2 linked regions of the Homo sapiens genome follow. The protein of the gene in region 2 interacts with the protein of the main gene of each other region in a pairwise test. Each region holds a gene or a part of one and is shown on either strand. Other genes may lie near its edges. The genes, in order: TRA2A and XPOT.

The links.
Region 1: the proteins of XPOT (region 2) and TRA2A interact in binary tests that used the Homo sapiens proteins (3 or more experiments, as listed by UniProt).

Annotation. Positions count from the first base shown.
Region 1 is NC_000007.14:23,528,711-23,536,086, forward strand, and holds the start of TRA2A (transformer-2 protein homolog alpha), read right to left. Parts: upstream 3,272-7,376; 5' UTR 3,115-3,271; coding exon 3,079-3,114; intron 2,561-3,078; exon of another isoform or gene 2,471-2,560; intron 1-2,470. UniProt on the Homo sapiens protein: Sequence-specific RNA-binding protein which participates in the control of pre-mRNA splicing.
Region 2 is NC_000012.12:64,400,386-64,407,614, forward strand, and holds the start of XPOT (exportin-T), read left to right. Parts: upstream 1-4,006; 5' UTR 4,007-4,419; exon of another isoform or gene 4,420-5,375; intron 5,376-7,229. UniProt on the Homo sapiens protein: Mediates the nuclear export of aminoacylated tRNAs. In the nucleus binds to tRNA and to the GTPase Ran in its active GTP-bound form. Docking of this trimeric complex to the nuclear pore complex (NPC) is mediated through binding to nucleoporins.

The sequences.
Region 1 (7,376 bases), on a different chromosome or scaffold from region 2:
AGGCTGGAGTGCAGTGATGCGATCTCGGCTCACTGCAACCTCTGCCTCCCGGGTTTAAGCAATTCTCCCACCTCAGCCTCCTAAGTAGCTAGGATTACAGGCATGTGCCACCCCGCAGGGCCTGTAGGAGTCTCTCAAAAATACTCCAGCTACTCAAGAAGCCAGAAGAAATCCTGAAAAGGAGGCAATAAGAAGCGGTATTTTTCCTCTTCAACTGTAGAAAACATAAATAACTCTGGAATTACAAGATAGGTCCCTAACAATAAAGAATCATTAACCTCCATGATCAACACTGGGATGCTGTATGAAAATTGCACATTTTTATAAAGTACAGTTCTTAAAATTTTAGGGGTAGAGGTGTAAAATGTTAAGAAAAGATTTCCATTCCCCTTAATTTCTATGAAGGGCATTAACATTTTTTGAGCTCAAAATCCGAATTTTAGTTGAAGCTGTATTGAGGCAAACAACTCATTACTTTTATCAAGACATGCAAAGCCACCGCTTAAGTGCTACCTTCACTCCCAGCTCCAAAGGACATCTCCACTTAAAATTGCTTTTATGGACCTACGTATTTACTTATTTTTGAGACAAGAGTCTCATTCTGTTGCCTAGACTGGAGTGTCGTGGCGCAATTCCGCCTCCCAGGTTCAAGTAATTCTCCTGCCTCAGCCTCCTAAGTAGCTGTGATCACAGGCGCACGCCACCACGCCCGGCTAATTTTGTATTTTTAGTAGAGACAGGGTTTCACCACGTTGGGCAGGCTAGTCTCGAACTCCTAACCTCAAGTAATCCACCCGCCTCAGCCTCCCAAAAATTGTTGGATTACAGGCGTGAGCCACTGCGCCCGGCCAGAAACGATTTTAAAAAGGGCATCTCCAGACAAGCTTCTCGCATTGTTCTAATTCTTTAACCAATTACAAATAAAGACAATTATCTCATCCTATAAAAACTAAAAGACGAAAAATAAAAAGATACAACAGGTGAGCCTACAAGCACTAGTTGATTTACACTAAAATACACTTGGGTACCACTTGTGAAAAAAATATTTCCTATGACCACAAAGGGCCGTAAGAGGGCCCTTTATTTCTATTAAATAAATCTTTAATGCCTACATATACTTTAGCTTAAAAGTGGGTGGGAATCTTTTTTTTTTTTTTTGAGACGGGAGTCTCACTGTCACCCAGGCTGGTAGGTGGGAATCTTAACATGTTACTTTCTTAGGAGGGAAAAGTGACAATTGTCGGCAACTTACTCCTTTCCTAGACTTGATGATAAATTAAAAAAAGAAAAAAAGCAAGCAAACAAGGTCCCTCCAGTAGTCCTCTTCACTCCCCACAAACCAAACCAAACATCAATCCCCCAATTTTTTAACAATGAAAGTTAATTGAAGGAATGTATGAATGGACAGCAAAATTTCTATCGATAATTACTCAACATTTTCAAAACAAGAAGCATTTTACAACTACTATCATATATGTTTATCGCATGATTTTAGAAAGTTCTGTTGGGGCCATCAATACACCATCCTAAAAAATAAGCAGGTTCAATTTTCATTTGTTTCCATGCTCCAAACTTTGTAAAAAAAAATTCCAATCAAAAGAATTAAAGGCAAATTTTTTAGTCTACCGGGTAACTATTATAGTCTATTGCTTTAAATCTTTCCTCAAAGAGAACTAAAGCCTAAACTGACCTTCTGATTTGACTTTTTGGTTCTAGATGTTTATATCATGAACTCCCCAAAAGGACAAAATTCGCCCTTCAGCACACACACCTCAGGTGTTTTTATGTGCTTCCCCTAGTGACTAGAATAAACATCTACACAACAGCCCGGAACGTGTTGCATGGGGCTTTTGTTTTCTTTCCAGGGTTTCACACGAACTCACTTCTACTAACTCACTTCTACAATTCCCTATGTAGGGTAAACTTTGGAAATGAAACTCACTGACAAACGTTCCAGTACATTTAAGCTGGGGATATCGTATTCTTTGTGATGTTTGTATTTCTCCGACCCCAAATATATTAATAAAAACTTTTTTCTGAGCCCTCTTCGGTGGGGGATAGAGTGAGAAGAGAAATGGGAGAGGGCCTGTTAATTTTCAGGTCATCTTTTAAGTTACAGAACAGTATATACTGACTAGTTATCTTAAAAATACTGAGCCAATGAATTCGTTCAGCTATGTAAGATTAAAGAAAGACAGATTTTTTTTTTTTTACCGTAAAAACCTGTAAAGGAGTGGTCAGTTTTTAGATGAAAGGTCATAGGAAGAAGAGCATTAAAAGTTGAGATATAAAGAAGAGAAAAAACCCAACATCGAGGAATTAGAAAAATAAGGCGTGACAGCATTTCCACATTCATTTCGAAGTGAAAGGAAAGTCGAAGGGACATTAAGGGAAAAGGGCTCCTTGCGTAGTTTCCCCTCACAGCTCTCGTCTTAAGAACGCTTAAGGGTCGGTGCGGTCGTTGACTAACCACTTCATTAGGCTCGTCCCACCTTCAACCTCAAGGCTTTCGCCTTTTTAGACGCAACGCCGCCGGTTCCAACAGAGACGCGGCCGCTCACTGAAATAGAGAGCCAAGGAGACACAGGCCCCAGCTAGTCCCACGCCAGCTTCTCCCCGCCCGGAAAGCAGCCCCGCGCACTTTCGATCCCGAGACCCTCTACGATGCTCGGGGTCGCCAGAAATGCCACCGCAGGAAGCACCTACCACTATCCGGACGGAGGGGAGCTCCCTGCCGCCTCCTCCCGCCCAACCGCGACGGGGACCCACACCTCGGAGCAGACATAAGGAAGCCTCAGGGGTGGGGAGAAGGGAGGAAGCAATGCGGGGGCGGGGAGGGAAGAGGACCCAGAAGTCCAGGTATCAGTCAGCCTCCAAAAAAGGGGGAGGGGTGTTATCCGTGGTGTTTGGGGAAGGAGTGGAACCCAGAAGCCATCTTGGGATGGGAGGAATCAATCGCGATGGCTCCAGAGGTTGCTCCTCGCGGGACTACCCGCAACCCCGCCCGACCGCGCTTGTTCCCGTGAAACCCCGAGCATTGGGCCGCCGCCTAGACGGCTCCCGCGGCTTTGTACTCACTCTGCCCTCGAAGTTGTTTTCCTCCACATCACTCATGTCGACGAGGCGCTCCCCAGAACTAAATAAGAGACAAGTCTCGGCTCGAGGGCCGATGGCCTAATTAACCCGCTGACTGGACCGTGGGGAAGAGGAAAGAGTCGGCAACCACAGCCGCTCCACTCCACTCCCACTCGGTCGCAGGCTCCAGCAAAATGGCGCCGGCGCCGCCAGAAATCTCCTGGCCTCCTCAGAGCACGACGTAAAGGGGGCGGGCGTCTCTGTGACGTCACGAGGCTCCACCTCCCGCGAGGCTTTGTGTCGGCTGGGCCTGGAGCGAGGGTGGAGGTTGGCGGGCGGCCTGCGCTCTCAACCTGGGCGCCTTGGAATCGCGGTCCCGTGCTGTCCTCCAAACTTCAGACTCACCTCGGACGCGTCAACCTCTTTGAAGACTTTTCAGTCGCCAGATGAGCCTTATATGACCTTAGCCCCTTTAAATATTGTCCAAGTGGATTCTGATGTAAGGGAACAAAACATTGGAAGCGTTTTTTTATGTTTGTTTATTTTTTGAGTCAGGGTCTCGCTCTGTCACCCAAGCTGAAGTGCAGTGAAGCGATCACTGCTCACCACAGCCTCAAACTCCCGGGCTCAGACGATCCTCCCACCTCAGGCTCCCGCGCGCGCCACCACGCCCGGCTAATTTTTTTCTTTTTTGGGACGGAGTCTCACTCTGTTGCCCAGGCTGAAGTGCAGTGGCGCTATCTAGGTTCATTGCAACCTCCACCTCGCAGGTTCAAGCAATTCTCCTGCCTCAGCCTCCCCAGTAGCTGGGATTACAGGCATGCACCACCACGCCCGGCTAATTTTTGTATTTTTAGCAGAGACGGGGGTTTCACCATGTTGGACAGGCTGGTCTCAAACTCCTGACCTCAGGTGATTTGCCCGCCTGGGCCTCTCAAAGTGCTGAGATTGCAAGGGTGAACCACCGTACCCGGCCCACCCGGCTAATTTTTGTGTGTTTTGCAGAGATGGGGTTTTGACATGCTGCCCAGGCTGGTCTCGAATTTGTGGACTCAAGCGATCTGCTCGCCTCGGCCTCCCAAAGTGCTGAGATTACAGGCCTGAGCCACCGCGCCCGGCTGGAATCGTGTATATATAACAGGCTTTTGGGGGGCACGTTGTCAGCTGACTGTATTACTTTTCTTCCATATTTGCCCTGTGTAATGTCGACGTAGTACATGCACAGATGAGGTTATGATGCAAAGCCGCTGCTCCTTGCCTCGTGTCCCTGCTCCAGTTCCCCCTCCTAGAGACAGCCGTGTAGTTTTTTTTTTATAATGCTTAGCTCCCTACTAGTTTTTTTGACTTAGATATTTCCATAAAGCTTCACAGTGAAGACCTCCCAAATCTGTCAACTTGGTTCCCAATCATAGTAATAATCTCTGAGATGAGTTTTACTTGTGTAATGCAACTTTAAAAATTAGTTTCATCTTAAATTTTTTTCCTACAGTGCTTTGTAGTAAAAAGATTGACATAGACTTTCAACTATAGTTCTATGGTAGGAAAGTTCATCTGGCATTATTATGAAGATTGCTACCACTGGGGGCAAGATTTCAGCATTTGAATGTCAGTTATTGATAGGGATAAACTTAAATGACATCTGGCTCTTAGAAAAGATGTTGAACTTGGCTGGGTGTGGTGGCTGACGCCTGTAATCCCAGTACTTTGGAGACCCTAGGCGGAAGATCGCTTGAGGCCAGAAGTTCGAAACCAGCCTGGTCAACATGGTGAGCCCCCATCTCTACAAAAGAAATTATTATTATTATTATTGAGACGGAGACTTGCTCTGTCACCCAGGCTGGAGTGCAGTGGCGCGATCTCGGCTCACTGCAACCTCCACCTCCGGGTTCAAGTGATTCTCCTGGCTCAGCTTCCCGAGTAGCTGGGATTACAGTGCGTGCCACCACACCCGGCTAATTTTTGTATTTTTCGTAGAGATGGGGTTTCACCATGTTGGCCAGCGTGGGCTGGAACTTGTGACTTCAGATGATCTGCCCGCCTCAGCCTCCCAAAGTGCTGGGATTACAGACGTGAGCTGCCACGCCCAGCCAGGTTGATACCATTTGAACCACTGATCAATCTTAGTACCATTAAAAGTGAGATAACCAGATACGAGATACCTCATGATGTGATGCAATAGAAAATACCCAGTTCCTCCTGTGAAGTATTCCTGATCCCTCAAATTGAACTCAAATCTAATTAAACCTTAGATCTAGCCAACAGTTTACAGGAAATACAAGAAAGGGAAAAATAAAAACACCGAGATGAAGTAATCAACTTCCACAGGACAAATAACCACATTCCCCAACAGATTAAATTCACAATCAAGGATGGGAGAAAGGTAGACTATTATGGACTAAGAGTCTTCCCCCCTACCCTTTTTTCCTTTTATTTATTTTTTGGAGACATAATCTGACTCTGTCACCCAGGCTGGAGTGCAGTGGCACAATCATGGCTCCAACGATCCTCCCACCACACCCTCTCACATAGCTGGGACTACAGGCCCCCAACACCATGCCCAGCTAATTTTTAAATTATTGTAGAGACCAGGTTTTGCCATGTTGCCCAGGCTGCTCTCAAACTCCTGGGCTCAAGTGATCCTGCCGCCTAGGCCTCCCAAAGTGTTGAGGAACCAGGCCGGGCCTAGAAGAGTAGTTTCTTTTTTCTTTGCCTTTTTTTTTGAGACAGAGTTTCACTCCCGTGCCCAGGCTGGAGTACAGTGGCACAGTCTTGGCTCACTGCAACCTCTGTCTCTCGGGCTCTAGAGATTATTCTGCCTTAGCCTCCCCAGTAGCTGAGACCACAGGTGCATGCCACTGTGCTCGGCTAATTTTTGTATTTTTTTGTAGAGACGGGGTTTTGATGTTGGCCAGGCTAGTCTCTAACTCCTGGCCTCGAGTGATCCACCCACCTCGGCCTCCCAAAGTGCCGGGATGATAGGAGATATTTGCTTTATGAGTTATAATCCATTGCTATCATTATTTATTTTGTTGCTTGAATTGTCCCAGATTTCAGTTATAAACTTTTGATATGTTTAAACATATATATAATGTCCTTTTTTCGGAATTGTCTATTTTCCATTTTTCTTTTTTTTTTTTTCCGAGACGGAGTTTCACTCTTGTTGCCCAGGCTGGAGTGCAATGGCACGATCTCAGCTCACTGCAACCTCCGCCTCCCGGGTTAAAGCGATTCTCCTGCCTCAGCCTCTCGAGTAGCTGGGATTACAGGCATGCGCCAGCACGTCTGGCTAATTTTGTATTTTTAGTAGAGACGGGGTTTCTCCAGGTTGGTCCGGCTGGTCTCGAACTCCCGACCTCAGGTGATCCGCCCACCTCGGCCTCCCAAAGTGCTGGGATTACAGGTGTGAGCCACTGTGCCCGGCCTATTTTCCATTTTTCTATTGGATTTTTATCCTTTGTCCCTCAAGTTTTATGAGTTCCTTGTATATTAGGAATATTAGCCTTTTATTTGTGCTTTATGTTGCAAATATTTTCTCCTAGTTTGTAAATTGTATTTGACTTTGCTTATGGTATATTTTGCATACTATTTTTTGATTTTTTAATTTAATTAATTAATTTTACTATGGCAATAAAAGATTCCCAAATTAGCATACTTTTTTTTTTTGAGACTGAATTTTGCTCTTGTTGCCCAGGCTGGAGTGCAATGGCTCATTCTCGGCTCACTGCAACCTCCGCCTCCCAAGTAGCTGGGCTTACAGGCATGCACCACCACACCCAGCTAATTTTTGTATTTTTTAGTAGAGATGGGTTTTCACCATGTTGGCCAGGCTGGTCTTGAACTCCTGACTTCAGGTGATCCACCCACCTTGGCCTCCCAAAGTGCTGGGATTACAGGCGTGAGCCACTGTGCCTGGCCACTATTTTTTTTTTTTTTTTGAAATGGAATCTTGCCCTGTCGCCCAGGCTGGAGTGTAATGGCGCAATCTCGCCTCACTGCAACCTCCACCTCCAGGTTCAAGCGATTCTCCTGCCTCAGCCTCCTGAGCTGGGATTACAGGTGAGGACCACCACGTCCGGCTAATTTTTGTATTTTTAGTAGAGATGGGGTTTCACCGTATTGGTCAGGCTGGTCTCAAACTCCTGACCTCGTGATCCGCATGCCTCGGCCTCCCAAAGTGTTGGGATTACAGGTGTGAGCCAGTGCACCCGGCTGCCCCTGGATTTTAAGTCATAGTTAGCCTTTTCCCATACTGAGATTAAAGAGGAATTCACTATGTTTTCTTCTAGTAGTTATGTAGCTTC
Region 2 (7,229 bases):
TGAATTACTCTTTCTCTATTGAGATTCCCCTATCTTGATAAATTGGGTCTGTCTAGGCAGCAGGGAACCTATTGGGCAGTTACAAAAGGAGCCTTTTGGGCAGTTACAAAATGATAGTGTTATTTGTCAACATGTTGATGACTAACATTTTCATCTGAGATGAGAAACTGCCCATCCCTTCATGGACGGAGGAGGCAGAATATGGAATGGTCAAATGTAATACCTCTCTTAGGTCCTCTTCAGTTGGATTCTACCAAGTGCTTCTTTATTTGTTCTTTTTGTTGTTGTTGTTGTTGTGGTTGTTGAGATGAAGTCTCACTCTGTTGCCCAAGCTGGAGTGCAGTGGTGCGATCTCAGCTCACTGCAACTCCACCTCCCGGTTCAAGCAATTCTCCTGCCTCAGCCTCCCGAGTAGCTGGGACTACAGGCATGTGCCACCACGTCCTGCTAATTTTTGTATTTTTAGTAGAGGCAGGGTTTCACTATGTTGGCCAAGCTGGTCTTGAACTCCTGACCTCCTGAACCACCCATCTCGGCCTCCCAAGGTGCTGGGATTACAGGCATGCATCACCACACCCGGCTTTTTTTTTTTGAGATGGAGTCTCACTGTGTTGCCCAAGCTGGAGTGCAGTGGCGCAATCTCGGCTCACTGCAACCTCCCAGGTTCATGCAATTCTCCTGCCTCAGCTTCCCAAGTAACTGGGACTACAGGCATGTGCCACCATGCCCGGCTAATTTTTTTTTTGTATTTTTAGTAGAGACGTGATTTTACTGTGTTGGCCAGGCTGGTCTCGATCTCTTGACCTTGTGATCCATCTGCCTCAGCCTCCCAAAGTGCCGGGATTACAGGCATGAGCCACCGCGCCTAGCCTCTTTATTTGTTCTGAAATAATATGAGTTTACAAAGTTGAAAGAGATTTCTACAATTCTAGGTATTTCAACTACCATAAACGAAAGAGCTAATGTTAGTAGATAAACTGTAGATAAACTGAAGATAGGCTTTGTATAACATTCAACATAAGAAGTAGCCATAAAATGAATTTACAAACAAAACAGCAAGTAAAGACATCTATAATACGATAGATTGAATTGCCATATTCTTTAGGATGAGGCCTGGAATATGCTGAACATACAGATTGCAGAGGCACTCAGCCCAAGATTAGTATTGGGCCTTCATACTCCACAGTTGATCATCACAGCTAATATAAGAATTCATGCAATGATTCAGTTATTGAGTTGAAACTAGCAGGCTGGCACTGTGCTAGACTCGAAAGATATACTGAAATAGGTAGGGCAGAAATCCTAGCCTGAGATTTTTTTTCTTAGAAATAACATTCATAGCAACTTGTGAAAAAAGCCATGCCTGTGTCTCCAGCAGCAGTGAAACAAGATGGTGGATCCCCTCACCATTAACCCCCATATGGAAAGGGTATATGTAATTCAGAAGGGATGTGTATTATGTCTGTTCTCACACTGCTATAAAGGAATGCCTGGGACTGGGTAATTTATAAAGGAAAGAGATTTAATTGACTCACAGTACCTCAGGGCTGAGGAGGCCTCAGGAAACTTACAATCATGGCAGAAGGGGAAGCAAACACATCATTCTTCACATGGTGGCAGGGGAGAGAAGAATGAGTGCCCAGCAAAGGGGGAAGCCCCTTATAAAACCATCAGATCTCATGAAAACTCACTATTACGAGAACAGGGTGGGGGAAACCAACCCCATGATTCAATTATCTCCACCTGATCCCGCCCATGACATGAGGGGATTATGGGAATTACAATTCAAGATGAGATTTGGGTGGAGACACAGCCAAACCACGTCAGGATGTGTAGACAACTGAAGTACAATAACATCAAGGCTGTTTTGACGTAAGGGCAGAATTTACAGTATGTGCTCTCACACAACTTGAAATCTTAAAGGCCTTCCGGGAACAGGGTTAATCAGAAACCAACATGGCAGATTAGTACCAAAGATGGAGTTACTTTAGCTTCCAGATTCCACCCATCAATCCAGCTCTTACAGTTTCACTCGCCCTCCTATTTGGAGATGGTCCCTGAGCTTTTAGGGAGGGTGGTTTCATATGATATAGCTTTAGCAGCAGCGCCCTAGCAGTGGAAAACAGATTGGGCCCAGAGAGATTCCAAATGAGGGAGATTCACAGGCTTTGTTGAATTATCTCTAGTCTTGAGAATACCATGACTTTGGTTTTCTCAGAAGTAAAACAAGAGATACTTCTTGTTTATAATTAATTTGAATAATTAATAATTTGAATAGTAGAAACATAATGCATGCAAGGATTACAATCAAAAGAAAATTTGTATGCCAGAACAACAAAGAACCTATTTCGTTGGGAAGCCAACTGAGAGCAGCGTGAAGAAAATTAAGGCCTGACACAGGGACTCACACTCGTAATTCCAACACTTTGGGAAGCTGAGGTGGGAGGTTCATTTGAGCCTGGGAGTTAGAGATCAGCCTGGGCAACAGAGCAAGTCCCCATCTCTACAAAAACAAACAAAAATAGCCAGGTATGATGGTATGCACCCGTAGTCCCAGCTCCTTGGGCGGCTGAGGCAGGAGGATTGCTTGAGCCCAGGAGGTCAAGGCTGCAGTGAGCTATGACCACTCTACTCCAGACTGGGTAACAGAGCGAGACCCTTTCTCTAAAAACAAGAAAAAATTAAAACCCAGTTCTCCTTTAGCGACATCTTGTAGCCACTAGCCTGACATTTTAAACACATAAATTAGAAACATGATGCAAGAGTGATTCAAGGTATTTTATATAGGAAATGCCTGGTGTAGTGTCTTGGACAGCTAAATAAAGGTAGCTGTTAAAACATTAGTTTTATTCTATGCTCTTACCATTCCTCCCTCTCCAAGTTTTGTTTGTAGTCTGTGGCAGCAACCTAGTCTGTATTTAGTACACATTGAATAATCAACAATGAAATGTAAATATTGAGCACATTGTGTGTCAAACACATGTATTAACTCAAACCTCACAGAAACCCTTTGAGGTCGGTACTATTAACAATCCCCATTTTACATACGAGTAAACTGAAGCATGGATAGACTAAAGTAAAGTGCCTGAGGTCAACTAGTGAGGAGGCGGAGTGGCAGTCAAGTCGAGGCAGCCTAAGCCTACACTGCCTCTATGTTGCATTAATAAATTAATAAATCTGTGACCAAATAAATGAAGTGACATTTAGTAGCATCGAAAGATCCCGTGAGTAGGACTTCCTAAGAATGCTCTCCTTCTTTTCATGGACAAAATTTTAGTCTGTTTAAAATAAATTTTGGACCGGACACCGTGGCTCACGCCTGTAATCCCAGTACTTTGGGAGGCCGAGGCAGGTGATCACTTGAGGTCAGGAGTTCGAGATCAGCCTGTCCAACATGGTGCAACCCTGTCTCTACGAAAAATACAAAAATTAGCTGGGTATGGTGGCGCGCGCCTGTCATCCCAGCTACTCAGGAGGCTGATGCAGGAGAACTGCTTGAACCCCGGAGGCGGAGGTTGCAGTGAGCCAAGATCTCGCCATTGCACCCCATCCTGGGCGACAGAGCGAGACTCCGTCTCAAAGAATAAATAAATAAATTAATTAATTAATTTTGAAAACCTGTCAGCACTCATCAGAGCTTTACACTGCTGTACTCGGGACACTTGGGGCCGTAGACAAGCAATTAAATTGACTCACACGTGGTTAGAACCACGTCATCCTGATTCGTGAATCCGTACTCTCAACTACTAGAAGCCCTTTGTGGAATGCTCGGGGCGAACCTGACGCTTGAGCTCTGACACCACGCAGACACAGCCGGGGATTTAGGAGCTGGGTAGGGACTCCTGGGCCGGATGCCTCATCCCGGCATGCACCTCAAGCCCCGGTGACCACGCCTTCCGGCGAGCGCCAGGGAGCGCGTGTGCGCCTCGCCGCCCGGAAGCGCCGGCCGCTCCCTGCATGCTGGGAGTTGTAGGCCTCCGGCGTCAGCCCGCGGGCTGCCGCCCGCACTCTCCAAGAGACTGCTGGCGCCGGCGCCCGCCCGCGCGGCACCGACGCGGGGAGCGCGCTTCGCGCTGACTCAGCGGCGGCGGCGGCTGCGGCGGCGGCGGCGGCGTTAGCCGGCCCTCGCGCTCTTTCCCTTCCTGGGGCGCCGACCCCGCCCGCTTGCTTGCTTGCTTGCTTGCCTGCCTGCCTGCCTGCCCGGCGCCACGCAAGAGAAGGTGCCAGGGGACGCAGAGCGACTAGAGGCGCGCGGTCCCGGCCAGCACCGTCTCTGGCGTTGTAGCTGCGGCCGTGGCGGAGGACTACGGCGACAAGGACGAGGGCCGCTCTCCCAGCTCTCTGCGTGCCGCGCCGCTCCGCTCCGCTGGCTGACCATCTGGAGTGCAGGCTGGGAGGCGGGATGGAGTGATAGGGAAGGTGACTCGGGGCTCGGGGGCAGCGGGACCGGGACCAGGTTTGGTCCGCGTGAGGCTTCGAGGAAGTTGGCCGGGGCGGACCGGCCCGGGGGAGTCCCGACGCCAGGGAGGGTGCAGGCTTGGGACCCTCTATGGCGGTGCACCCCCTGGCTGGGCGGACCGGGTGGGGGTGGGTACGAGCCGGGGCCGCCGCCGAGGAGCGCGTCCCGAGTGCGTGGCCGGCGGTTGCTTGGTGTTTCATCACCCGAATTGCCACGAGGCTTCCTTTAGGGGAGGGATCGGGGGAGGGATGGGAGCAAGGCTAGCAGAGGAGGGTCGGCATCGCCTGTGGTTCCGAAGCCCGTTAGTCATCGTTGTAGCGTTATCAACTGTGGAGACCTCAAACTTGATTCTTCCCCCACCCCTGGACAAAAAGGAAAAGTGTTATTTCTGTGCAGTAATTGGCCAGCACGGACGCTCCATTTCTTCTCAAACCTTCCTCACCATCCTGCAGGACTAGAGAAGCATGAGGTTTCCCTGTAACCAGAAAAACGAGTACTTTTTGAAAGTGCTAATTAGTTGTGGCGGGCGGGGGTTGGGGGAGAGTTACGTTTTATTAAACCGACTTGTCAGCGTGGTGTTAAAAGGCTGGAAAGATTCAGTCGTAGTATTTGAAACAGTCTTCAGTAGGTGTAGAGGAATTTTTCCAAATTGTTTGATTCTTAATGGCTATCCAGGAAAAGTTAAGGCTTAATATTTTAAGTATGTTGCTTGCCTTCCCCCAAGAACCTTTGCAAGATGCATAATTGTTTACCGTATTGAAACATTTTTTGGGGTTTTGTTGTTGTTGTTTTGAGACGGAGTCTCGCTCGGTCGCCCAGGCTGCAGTGCAGTGGTGCCATCTCGGCTCACTGCAACCTCTGCCTCCCAGGTTCAAGTGATTCTGCAGCCTCAGCCTCCCGAGTAGCTCTATTACAGGTGCGCCCCGCCACACCTGGCTACTTTTTGTATTTTTCGTAGAGATGGAGTTTCACCGTGTTAGCCAGGATGGTCTCGATCTCTTGACCTCGCGATCCGCCCGCCTCAGCCTCCCAAAGTGCTGGGATTACAGGCGTGAGCCACCGCGCCCGGCCTTCCACTGCATATTGATCGTCCAAATGCCTTCTATGTGGGGGATTCTTTCTGTAGTGACAACTGTTAACTAGTTTGTTTCCTTGGGTTTATTGGCTATGTTTTCCTTAGGGCCACTTCATTTTTCTCCCGATAGCTTCAGAGTGACTTGACCAAGCTTAAGCACTTTTTCTTTTTTTTGACACAGTGTCTCACTCTGTCGCCCAGGCGGGAGTGCAATGACACGATCTCCGCTCACTGCAACCTCCCCCTCCCGGGTTCATGCGAGTCTTCTGCCTCAGCCTCCTGGGTAGCTGGGATTACAGGCGCAGGCCACCATGCCCAGCTAATTTTTGTATTTTTAGTAGAGACGGCGTTTCACCGTGTTGGTCAGGCTGGTCTCGAACTCCTGACCTCGTGATCCGCCCACCTCGGCCTCCCAAAATGCTGGGATTACAGGCGTGAGCCACCGTGCCCAGCCAGCAATTTTTTTTAGATGGAGTTTCGCTCTCGTTGACCAGGCTGGAGTGCGGTGGCGCCATCTCAGCTCACTGCAACCTCCGCCTCCCGGGTTCAAGCGATTCTCCTGCCTCAGCCTCCCGAATAGCTGGGATTGCAGGCATGTGCCACCACACCCGGCTAATTTTTGTATTTTTAGTAGAGACGGGGTTTCTCCATGTTGGTCAGGCTGGTCTCGAACTCCCGACCTCAGTTGATCTGCGCCCCCCTCCCCTCGGCCTTCCTTAGTGCTGGGATTATAGGCGTGAGCCACCCTGCCTGGCCAGCATTTTTTTAAAAAGCCATAGCAAATTCAAGGAAGCTTTTATTGGACTTCTCAATCAGGGATTCTTAGAAACTCCGAAATCGTTTTTTCTCTCTGTGGGCATTTTTCAGGGGAATGGACATCAGATTTTCTTAACATTTAGGGGGCGAAGGGAACCAGTGCCTTTCTTTGTGTTTTTCTGTCTTTTAAAAATGCTGATCTGGTATAAGAATGCCCCAAGTCGTTTCCATTCCACATGTTCCTACCTCTGACTATAAACAACGTATTGAGGGCTCACTATGTGCCAGCCATGCTCTGCATACCTTATCTCTTTGAAGCCTTTACAACTTTATGAGGCATATGGTCTTTTTCCCATGTCATAGAAAGGGTTCTCTCAGGTTTTGTAAGTTGTCCAAGTGGCCCCAATTAAAAAATGACAAGATGGGGATACAAACCCAGGTCTTTGAAATCCAAAACCTATGCTCTACTATGTCCTAGGGACATAGTGATGGATAGTCAAGACAGTCCTTGCCCTTTAAGATTGTGAGAAATGGCCGGGTGGCTCACACCTGTAATCCCAGCACTTTGGGAGGCCGAGTCTGGCAGATCACCTGAGATTAGGGGTTCGAGACCAGCCTGGGCAACATGGTGAAACCCCATCTCTACTAAAAAATACAAAAATTAGCCGGGTGTGGTGGCTCACCCCTGTAATCTCAGCTATTTGGGAGGCTGAGGCAGAAGAATCACTTGAACCCAGGAGCCAGAGGCTGCAGTGAGCCGAGATCATGTCACTGCACTCCACCCTGGGCAACAGAGTGAGACTGTCTCAAAAAAAAAAAAAAAAGATTAATGAGAGAAAACTAGTAAGCTGGCAGTGACAGCATAGCAGTGCTTAGGATGGGGCATGTAATCCAATTTGGGAGAGTTGGACAATAGAGGTCAAAGAAGTGTTCTTGAAA